2 separate regions of the Homo sapiens genome follow, and region 1 is linked to region 2. The links come from fine-mapping of genetic effects on gene expression. A gene starts in region 2. The other region holds a variant in brackets. All regions are shown on one strand. Distances are from middle to middle. Region 1 has its middle 11 kb from the start of LGALS7. Region 2 holds the start of LGALS4 (galectin 4).

Region 1 (5,376 bases), 50 kb before region 2:
AACACTTTATGTAATCCTCCTCATTTTGCCTTTGAAAACTTCCCCTTGGCTGGGCATGGTGGCTCACACCTGTAATCCAAGCACTTTGGGAGGCTGACCCAGGCAGACCCCTAGAGTCCAGGAGTTTGAGATCGGCCTGGGCAATATGGTGAAACTCTGTCTCTAGAAAAGATACAAAAATTAGCTGGGCATGGTGGTGTGCGACTGTATTCCCAGCTACTCAGGAGGCTGAGGTGGGAGGATGGCTTGAGGACGGGAAGCGGGGGTTGCAGTGAGCCGAGATTGCACCACTGTTCTCCAACCTGGGCAACAGATCGAGATCTTGTCTCAAAATAATAATAATAATAATTATTATTGTTATTATTATTTAAAAATTTAAAACTTCGCCTTGCCTCAATCTCCTCTTTTTTTTTTTTTTTTTAAGATAAGGAGAGGCCAGCTATGCAGTGGCTCACACCTGTAATCCCAATACTTTGGGAGGCCAAGACGGGCAGATCACAAGATCAGGAGTTTGAGACCAGCCTGGCCAATATGGTGAATCCCCAACTCTACTAAAAATACAAATTAGCTGGGTGTGGTGGCAGGCACCTGTAGTCCCAGCTACTCGGGAGGCTGAGGCAGGAGAATCACTTGAACCAGGTTGCAGTGAGCTGAGATCACACCACTGCACACCAGCCTGGGCAATAGAGAGAGACTCCATCTAAAAAAAAAAACACACACAAAAAAAGAGAGAGACATAGGATTGGGCCGGGCACAGTGGCTCACGCCTGTAATCCTAGCATGTTAGGAGGCTTAGGCAGGTGGACCACCTGAGGTCTGGAGTTTCAGACCAGCCCAGTTAACATGGCAAAACCCCATCTCTACTGAAAATACAAAAATTAGCCAGGTGTGGTGGCACCTGCCTTTAGTCCCAACTACTTGGAGGCTGAGGCAGGAGAATCACTTGAACCCAGGAGGCAGAGGTTGCAGTGAGCTGATTGCATCAGTGCACTCCAGCCTGGATGAGAGAGACTCCATCTCAAAAAAAAAAGAAGAAGAAGAAAGAAAGAAAGAAGGAAGGAAGGGAGGGAGGGAGGGAGGGAGGGAGGGAGGGTGGGAGGGAAAGAAATTATTATGTGAGATAAGACAGGTGGATCTCGTGAGCCCAGGAGTTTGAGGCCATCCTGGGCAACATAATGAGACCCCCATCTCTATTAGAAAATAATAATAGTAAAAATAAAAAATAATTTAAAAAGTATTACTTCTAACTATAATGGAACTAAGCTAAAAGCCAACAATAAAATGAAATTTAGAAAATCTCTAAATATAAGAAAACTAAACAACATACTTGTAGATGACCTATGTGTCAAAGAAGGAATCTGGCTAGGTGTGGTGGCTCATGCCTATAATCCCAGCCAAGGGAGGCCAAGGCCAGTGGATCACCTTAGATCAGGAGTTCGAGACCAGCCTGGCCAACACGGTGAAACCGTGTCTCTACTAAAAAATACAAACATTAGCTGGGCGTGGTGGCTCATGCCTGTAGTCCCAGCTACTTGATAGGCTGAGGCAGGAGGATTGCTTGAACCTGGGAGGTGGAGGTTGTGGTGAGCTGAGATCACGCCACTGTACTCCAGCCTGGGTGACAGAGTGAGACTCCATCTAAAAAAAAAAAAAAAAAAAATCAAAAATGAATTTAGAAAATACCTTGAGCTGAATAAAAACAAAAACACAGGAAATAAAAATGTACAGGATGCTGGCAATGTAGTAATTAGCGGGAAACTTATAGCTTAAAAAACATATTAGTGTTGAGTCAGCCTGGTGAAAATTTTAAAAACCCCAACACATTAGAATGGAAAGAAGGCCTAAAATCAATAATTTAGGCTTCCACCTCCAAAGCTAGAAAAAGAAGAGTAAATCAAACTCAAAGAAAATAGTAAGAAGGAAGTAATAAAGATCTAAATGGACAGCAATGAAACAGAAATATAAAAACAATAGAGAAAAAGCAATGAAACTGAAATTGGCTCATTGAAAACATCAACAAAACCGGTATTGAAAAGATTAACAGGCCAGGTGTGGTGGCTCACACCTGTAATCCCAGCAGTTTGAGAGGCCAAGGTGGGTAGATCACTTGAGGTCAGGCGTTCGAGACCAGCCCGGTCGACATGGAGAAACCCTGTCTCTACTAACAATACAAAAATTAACTGGGCATGGTGGCACACACCTGTAATCCCAGCTGGAGGCTGAGACAGGAGAATCACTTGAACCCAAGAGGCCGAGGTTGCAGTGAGTCGAGATCATGCCACTGTACTCCAGCCTGGGTGACAGAGTGAGACTCTTGTCTCAAAAAAAGAAAAGATCAGCAAAACTGGGCCGGGTGCAGTGGTTCCCACCTGTAATCCCAGCACTTTGGAAGGCCGAGGCAGGTGGATCACCTGAGATCAAGAATTCAAGACCAGCCTGGCCAACATGGTGAAACCCCGTCCCTACTAAAAATACAAAAATTGGTGGGGCATGGTGGTGGGCACCTGTAATCCCAGCTACTCAGGAGGCTGAGGCAGGAGAATCGCTTGAATCCGGAGGTGGAGGTTGATGTGAGCCGAGATCACACCACTGCACTCCAGCCTTTGGCGACAGAGTGAAACTCTGTCTCAAAAACAAACAAACAAACAAACAAACTAGTATACTGGTTTTCAATGAAATCAGTTAGCTCATTAAAAAGTTCAACAAAAGAGTAAGAAAAATAAAAAAGACAGAAGCCCTCAATTACCAAAAGCAAGAATGAAGGAGGGAAAAACACTAACATGGTACACAAATTTTAAAAAATCACAGGGGAATATTATGAACAGATTTAGGTCAACTAATTAGGCAATTTAAATGAAATGAACAAATCCCTAGAGAGACACAAATTACCAAAACTGACTCAAGAACAAAATAGAAACACAGATACAATTTTTGTACAAGTATCCATTGAAATGTATTGAAAAATGAAAATGACATAGAATAAACAAAACAATTTTGAGAAAGGAGAACAAAGTTGCAAGGCATATAATGTGACTTTAAGACTCACTATTCACTTTGGGAGGTCAAGGTGGGTGGATGGCTTGAGCCCAGGAATTCCAGACCAGCCTGGGCAACATGGC[G/A]AGACCATGTCTCTCCAAAAAATACAGAAATTAACTGGGTGTGGTGGCATGTGCCTGTAGTCCCAGCTACTTAGGAGGGTGAGCCCAGGAGGTTGAAACCACAGTGAACTGTGATCGCACCACTGCACTCCAGCTTGGGAAACAAAGTGAGAATCTGTCTCAAAAAAAAAAAAAAAGAAGAAGAAGAAGCCAGGCGCAGTGGCTCATGCTTGTAATGCCAGCACTTTGGGAGGCCGAGGTGGGCAGATCACCTGAGGTCAGGAGTTCGAGACCAGCCTGACCAACATGGTGAAATCCCATCTCTACTAAAACTACAAAAATTAGCTGGGCATGGTGGCAGGCACCTGTAATCCCAGCACTCAGGAGGCTGAGGCAGGAGAATTGCTTGAACTCAGGAGGCAGAGGTTGCAGTGAGCTGAGATTGTGCCATTGCACTCCAGCCTGGGTGACAGAGAGAGACTCCGTCTTTTTTAAAGGAAAAAAAAAAAAAAGGCCAGGCGCAGTGGCTCACGTCTGTAATCTCAGCACTTTGGGAGGCCGAGGCAGGTGGATCACAAGGTCAGGAGTTAAGAGACCAGCCTGGCTAACACGGTGAAACCCCGTCTCTACTAAACATACAAAAAAATTAGCCGGGCGTGGTGGTGGGTGCCTGTAGTCCCAGCTACTCTGGAGGCTGAGGCAGGAGAATGGCGTGAACCCAGGAGGCGGAGCTTGCAGTGAGCAGAGATCACGCCACTGCACTCCAGCCTGGGCGACAAAGTAAGACTCCGTCTCAAAAAAAAAAAAAAAAAAAAAGAGAGAAAGACTCACTATAAAGCTACAGTAATCAGGAATATGCTATCATGATAAGGATAGATATATAAATCAAGGAATCAGAAGAATGATTAAGTCCAGATTTAAAACAACAAAAATGGTCAATTAATTTTTAACAAAATTGCCAATATAATTCAATGAGGAGAAAAAACAGTCACTTCAACAAATGGTGCTGAAATAACTGGACATCTATAGAGTGAGAAAAGAACCTTGACCCTTAACTCATACCACACACAAAAATTAACTAAAAATAACTAAAAATTAACTAGAAATAATATATTAACTAATGAGACAAAAATTAACTAAAGTTAGGCCGAGTGCTGTGACTCACGCCTGTAATCCCAGCACTTTGGGAGACCAAGGCGGGTGGATCACCTGAAGTCAGGAATTCAAGAACAGCCTGGCCAACATGGTGAAACCCTGTCTCTACTAAAAATACAAAAATTAGCCGGGCGTGGTGGCGGGTGCCTGTAATCCCAGATACTCAGTAGACTGAGGCAGGAGAATCGCTTGAACCCGGGAGGTGGAGATTGCAGTGAGCCGAGATCACGCCATTGCACTCCAGCCTGGTTGAGAAGAGTGAATTTCCATCTCAAAAAAAAAAAAAATTAACTAAGGTTTAAAAACTAAACTTAAATGCTAAAACTATAAACCTTCTACAATAAAATGTAAAAAGAAATCTTTGTGACAAATGTTTCTCACGAAGATTTCTTAAGCAAAGATTTAAGTAGGTCACAAAAGCACACTACATAACAGAAAAAATAACTGATAAAATGAACGCCATCACGATTAGACTTTTGTTCTGAGGAAGACATCTTTAAGAAAATAAAAAGGCTCGGTCAGGCGTGGGGGCTCACCTCTGTAATCCCAGCAGTTTGAGAGGCCGAGGCGGGTGGATCACCTGAGGTCAGGAGTTCCAGACCAGCCTGGCCAACATGATGAAACCCCATCTCTACTAAAAATACAAAAATTAGCCAGGCATGGTGGCAGGTGCCTGTAATCCCAGCTACTTGGGAGGCTGAGGCAGGAGAATCACTTGAACCTGGGAGGAGGGGGTTGCAGTGAACTGAGATTGTGCCACTGCACGCCAGCCTGAGCGACAGAGACTCTGTCTCAAAAAATAAAATAAACTAAAAATAAAGAAAATGAAAAGGCTAGCCGGGCACGGTGGCTCACACCTGTAATCCCAGCACTTTGGGAGGCCAAGGTGGGTGGATCACCTGAGGTCAGGAGTTTGAGATCAGCCTGGCCAATGTGGTGACAACCCGTCTCTACTAAAAATACAAAAATTGGCTAGCGTGGTGGCGGGCGCCTGTAATCCCAGCTACTCTGGAGGCTGAGGCAGGAGAATTGCTTGAACCTGGGAGGTGGAGGTTGCAGTGAGCCGAGATCCTGCCATTGTACTGCAGCGTGGGCAACAAGAGCAAAACTCCGTCTCAAAAAA
Region 2 (5,307 bases):
TTTTTAATTTTTTTGAGACAGTCTCCCTTTGTCACCTAGGCTGGAGTGCAGTGATGCGATCTCAGCTCACTGCAAACTCTGCCTTCAGGATTCAAGTGATTCTCCCACATCAGGCTCTCAAGTAGCTGGGATTACAGGCACCTGTCACCATGCCTGGCTAATTTTGTATTTTCAGCAGAGATGAGATTTCGCCTTTTTTTTTTTTTTTTTTTTTTTTTTGAGATGGAGTCTCGCTCTTTCGCCCAGGCTGGAGTGCAGTGGCGCAATCTTGGCTCACTGCAAGCTCCGCCTCCTGGTTTCACGCCATTCTCCTGCCTCAGCCTCCCGAGTAGCTGGGACTACAGGCACCCGCCACCATGCCCAGCTAATTTTTTGTATTTTTAGTAGAGACGGGGTTTCACTGTGTTAGCCAGGATGGTCTCGATCTCCTGACCTCGTGATCCGCCCGTCTCTGCCTCCCAAAGTGCTGGGATTACAGACGTGAGCCACCACGCCCAGCCAGATGCGATTTTGCCATTTTGGCCAGGCTAGTCTCGAGCTCCTGACCTCAGGTGATCTGCCTGGCTTAGCCACCCAAAGTGCTGGGATTACAGGCGTAAGCCACCATGCCCGGCCAGGCCACCCTATTTAAGGGGACAATTTAAAGGGAACCTCTGTCCGCACATACACTCCCCATCTCCCTTCCCTCCTCATTTTCTTCATAGCACTTAATATCATCTGACATCTTACATATTTGACTTTTTTTTTTTTTTTTTTTGAGACAGAGTCTCACTCTTGTTGCCCAGGCTGTAGTGCAATGGCACGATCTCGGCTCACCGAAACCTCCACTTCCCAGGTTCAAGTGATTCTCCTGCCTCAGCCTCCTGAGTAGCTGGGATTACAGGCATGCGCCACCACGCCCTGGTAATTTTGTATTTTTAGTAGAGACAGGGTTTCTCCATTTTGGTCAGGCTGGTCTTGAACTCCCGATCTCAGGTGATCTGCCTGCCTAGGCCTCCTAAAGTGCTGGGATTACAGGCCTGAGCTACCGCGCCCGGCCTGGACTTATTTTTTATGTTTCCCCTACTAGGACATCAGCTCCACGAGGGCAGGGGTCTCTGTCCTGTTCACTCCTCCATCCCTAGTGCCAGGACACAGAATAGGCACTCAGTGAAGAAGTAAACAATAAATAAATAAACAACAGGCTGGGCAGAGTGGCTCATACCAGTGCCTGATCCTCCCAGCACTTTAGGAGGCCGAGGCTAGAGGATCGCTTGAGCACAGGAGTTCAAGACCAGCCTGGGCAACATAACAAGACTTTGTCTCTACAAAACAAATAATAATAATAAATAAAAATTAAAAATTAAATTAGTTGGGCATGGTGGCACATGTCTGTAGTCCCATCTGCTTGGAAAGATGAGGTAGGAGGATCACTTTAGCCCAGGAGTTGGAGGCCGAAGTGAGCTATAATATTGTGCCACTGCACTCCAGCTTGGGCAACAGAGCAAGACCCTATCTCTAAGGAAAAAAAAAGTCCTATGAGGCCAATCATTATCAACGTGTTAAGGCCCTTTTTAAAAAGCTAAGACTGGGCCAGGCGCAGTGGCTCACGCCTGTAATCCCAGCACTTTGGGAGGCCGAGATGGGAGGATCACTTGAGGTCAGGAGTTCGAGACCAGCCTGACCAACATGGTGAAACCCCATCTCTACTAAAAATACAAAAATTAGCCAGTGTGCTGGCACATGCCTGTAATCCCAGCTACTCAAGAGGCTGAGGCAGGAGAATCGCTTGAACCTGGGAGACAGAGGTTGCAGTGAGCCAAGATCATGCCATTGCACTCCAGCCTGGGCGACAAGAGCAAAACTCCATCTCAAAACAAAAAAAAAAACAAAAAAAACAAAAACAGAAAAGAAAAGAAAATGAAGCACAGAGAGGTATAGTCACTTTCACTCTTTCACCAACACAGAGCTGGGGAGTGGCAGAGCTGGGATTTTAACTCGGGGACCCGGCTCTGAGCCTGTGATCTGAATTCCTGCCATTGCACCCATCAGCTTCAGTCTAATGTCCAACTCAGGGACTGCCTCTCACGGTGAGCCCTCCCTGAACCTTCTGGCCCCCACGTCCCCACTCCTGATCTGCCCCAGATTCATCTCTGGCTATTGGGTGGGGCAGAAAAAGAGTCCCCTCTCCACCAGGGTGGGGTAAGGGCAGAAAGCCCCCAACAGCCAGGCCCAGAGCACCCAGTTGGAAGTCCCCTGCCAGCCCGGCCTGGCTTGGGGAGGGTCTTACCGCTTCATGTGCTCGCTGGCCACTCCTTGGATGTAAACAGACATTCCCACGTTGAGCCCGCCCGGGATGGGCTGGTAGTAAGGCAGCGTCTGGAGAAGAGGCCTGGTGAGGGGACTCACAAGCCATCTGCCTGTTGCAGCCTTTACCCCTCCCAGAAAAGCCCCCCAGTCCCTTAAGCAGGAGAGAGGAAACCATGGGGGAGGACCAGGTTGAAGATGACGAGGGCCAACAGTTAGACGTGGACACAGACAGCCTGAGGTCAGGGTAGGAGTAAATCGAGGGTCGGGGTCAGCTTTGGGTAAATCAGACCACAGAGTCAGATGGGGCCCCCCAGGATCAGAGTGGGGAAAATTGGTGTGAGGGCTTATGGACGGAGCTGCGGGCGGAGTGGGGCCTGAGCTGGCATCTCACCGGGTTGTAGGTGGGCTGGTAGCCCGGTGCGGGGACATAGGCCATCGCTCGAGGCTGCGCTAGTGGCTGGTCCTGTGAGAAGAGCTGCAGGAGTGGGAGATGGTGGCGGATGGCAGGCGGTGGTGGCTCTTATACCCAGGGTAAGGGAGTGGCTGGCAGGGGAGGGTCCACAGGGCTCCTCTTCTGGGACTCTCAGGCTGTCGGCTTCTCCTAGAGCGCACCCTAGTCTCCCTTCCCTTGCCAGCTTCCCTGGTGACCAGCCAGGACCCAAATCACCTGGGTCCCCTCCCCTACGCCCTCCTGCAAAGAGGAAGTGCTCATGAACTTCGGCCCTGCCAGGGCCTTATCAGAGCCCATAAAACCCTGCCCAGACTTCTGTTGGCAGAGGGAGGGTGAGACCAGGCAGGGCAGGGCAGGCTGCAGGAATGACCCAGGACAGGTGGGCAGCGGAGGAGGAGAACGCGGAGGAACTGCAAATTCCTGCCTCTCCCAGCAACTGTGAAGGGACCTACGTTGATTGCGTGCCCACCACACATCTTTACCACGTATGTTGTATTGTAGGGAGAGTGGTTTAGATTACTAGTGTGTGGAGCCAGAGGTTCTAGGTTCAAATCCTGCCTTTGCCACTTCTCAGCTGTATGATCATGGGTCAGTGCCTTACCCTCAATTTGCCCATGTGCTCATCTGTAAAATGGGGATATAGTAGTATCGGCTGGGTGCAGTGGCTCATGCCTGTAATCCCAGCACTTTGACTGGCCGAGGTGGATGGATCACCTGAGGGCAGGAGTTCGAGACCAGCCTGGCAAAATCCCAGTCTCTACTAAAAATACAAAAATTAGCCAGGCATGGTGGTGGGTGCCTATAATCCCATCTACTTGGAGGCTGAGGCAGGAGAATCACTTGAACCTGAGTGGAGGAGAGTGCAGTGAGCCAAGGTCACGCCACTGCACTCCAGCTTGGATGACAGATGGAGACTCTGTTTCAAAAAAAAAAAAAAAAAAAAAGGAATTCATAAGAGAGGAAACAAGTATTGAATAGCTATCAAAATATTTTAAAAATGAATTTGTGATCCAGTAATGCCTGTATGTTATTAATCTGCCAAATAAGTTCTAGCTGTGGGTCCAACTGCCACTCAGAAAAATAAATAAATAAAGAAAAGAGTAGTATCAACCTTAGGCTGGGTGTGGTGGCTTGTGCCTACAATCCCAGCAATTTGGGAAGCTGAAGCAGGAGGACTGCTTGAGCCCAGGAGTTCAAGACCAGCCTGGGCAACATAGTGAGACCCCCATCTCTACAAAAATAAAATAAAAATTAGCTGGGCATGGTAGCACACATCTGTATTCCTAGCTACTCAGAGGCTGAGGCAGGAGGATCGCTTGAACCCAGGAGTTAAGGTTACAGTGAGCTATGATCATGCCACTGCACTCCAGCCTGGGTGACAGACTAAGAGTCCGTCTCTAAAAATAGCAACAATAATAGTCATAATAATAATAATCATAATAGTATCAACTTCATAGAGTCCTTGATCATTAAGATAATAAATGCTCAGAACAGGACATAGCATATAGAAGTCATTAACTTAATGCTTGGTCTCTTGCAGTCATTCCAAACATAAATCCGGAAGATTGGGATGATATATGGATAAAAAATCCCAAAGTTTTGTTTGCTCATTTTTGAGACAGAGTCTTGCTCTATCACCCAGGCTGCAGTGCAGTGGCACCATCTCAGCTCACTGCAACCTCCACCTCCCAGGTTCAAGGGATTCTCCTGCCTCAGCCTTCTGAATAGCTGGGATTACAGGCTTACTCCACGCCTGGCTAATTTTTGTATTTTTAGTAGAGACCAGGTTTTGCCATGTTGGCCAGGCTGGTCTCAAACTCCTGACCTCAAGTGATCCACCTGCCTCAACCTCCCAAAGTGCTGGAATTACAGGCATGAGCCACTGCACCCGGCCAGAAACCCCAAAGTCCTTTTTTGTTTTGTTTTTTCTTTTTTTGAGACAGAGTCTCACTCTGTCACCCAGGCTGGACTGCAGCAGCATGATCTCAGCTCACTGCAAACTCACCTCCTGGGTTCAAGGATTCTCCTGCCTCAGCCTCCCGAGTAGCTGGGACTAGAGGCACCTGCCACCACACCTAGCTAATTTTTGTATTTTTAGTAGAGACTGGGTTTCAACATGTTGACTAGGCTGGTTGCAAACTCCTGAGCTCAGGCAATCCACCTGCGTCAGCCTCCAAAAGTGCTGGGATTACAGGTGTGAGACGCCAGCATCAGATCCCATGTGCTGTGCAGTGAGAGGTGCCAGGCAGGGCACGAACGCCACCCTCAACCCCAGGGCAGGCAGGGAGACCAGGAAGCCTTGCAACCCAGAGGGACCCCAGCGACTTTTGCTCACTCCCTCCGCCCCGGAATTCCTTGTGCCCCTCGCCTGCCCGCTGCCAGTCTGAATGGCCATCACCTCCATGCCACCCATTCCCATGCATCCAACCTCTAGCCCCAGCCTTCAGGACTGCAGTCTCTGGAGCCCCTAGGTGCATCCCAGCCCCTCCCACCTCTCCTCTATCCAAGAAGGGCACCAGGTTCTTTACTTTGCTTTATTGTTTGTGGGGTGAAGATAAGGCCTTGGG

What was found. PIP is the estimated chance that this variant, and not a neighbour inherited with it, causes the effect. A credible set is the group of variants that fine-mapping cannot tell apart.
Region 1: its variant is the best candidate, but not a certain one, in a credible set for the expression of LGALS4 in lung (TOPMed, PIP 0.51).

Annotation. Positions count from the first base shown.
Region 1 is chr19:38,759,846-38,765,221 of GRCh38, forward strand. No RefSeq gene overlaps it. Among named protein-coding and RNA genes, the nearest start is that of LGALS7, 11 kb to the right of the region's middle. The variant G/A (reference allele first, on the strand shown) is at 3,120.
Region 2 is chr19:38,810,162-38,815,468 of GRCh38, forward strand. It overlaps LGALS4 (galectin 4), which reads right to left and starts at 2,784. Exons shown (of 10, transcript NM_006149.4): 1 at 2,681-2,784; 2 at 2,270-2,358. The coding sequence starts at 2,725. It overlaps ECH1 (enoyl-CoA hydratase 1), which reads right to left. Exons shown (of 10, transcript NM_001398.3): 10 at 5,261-5,307.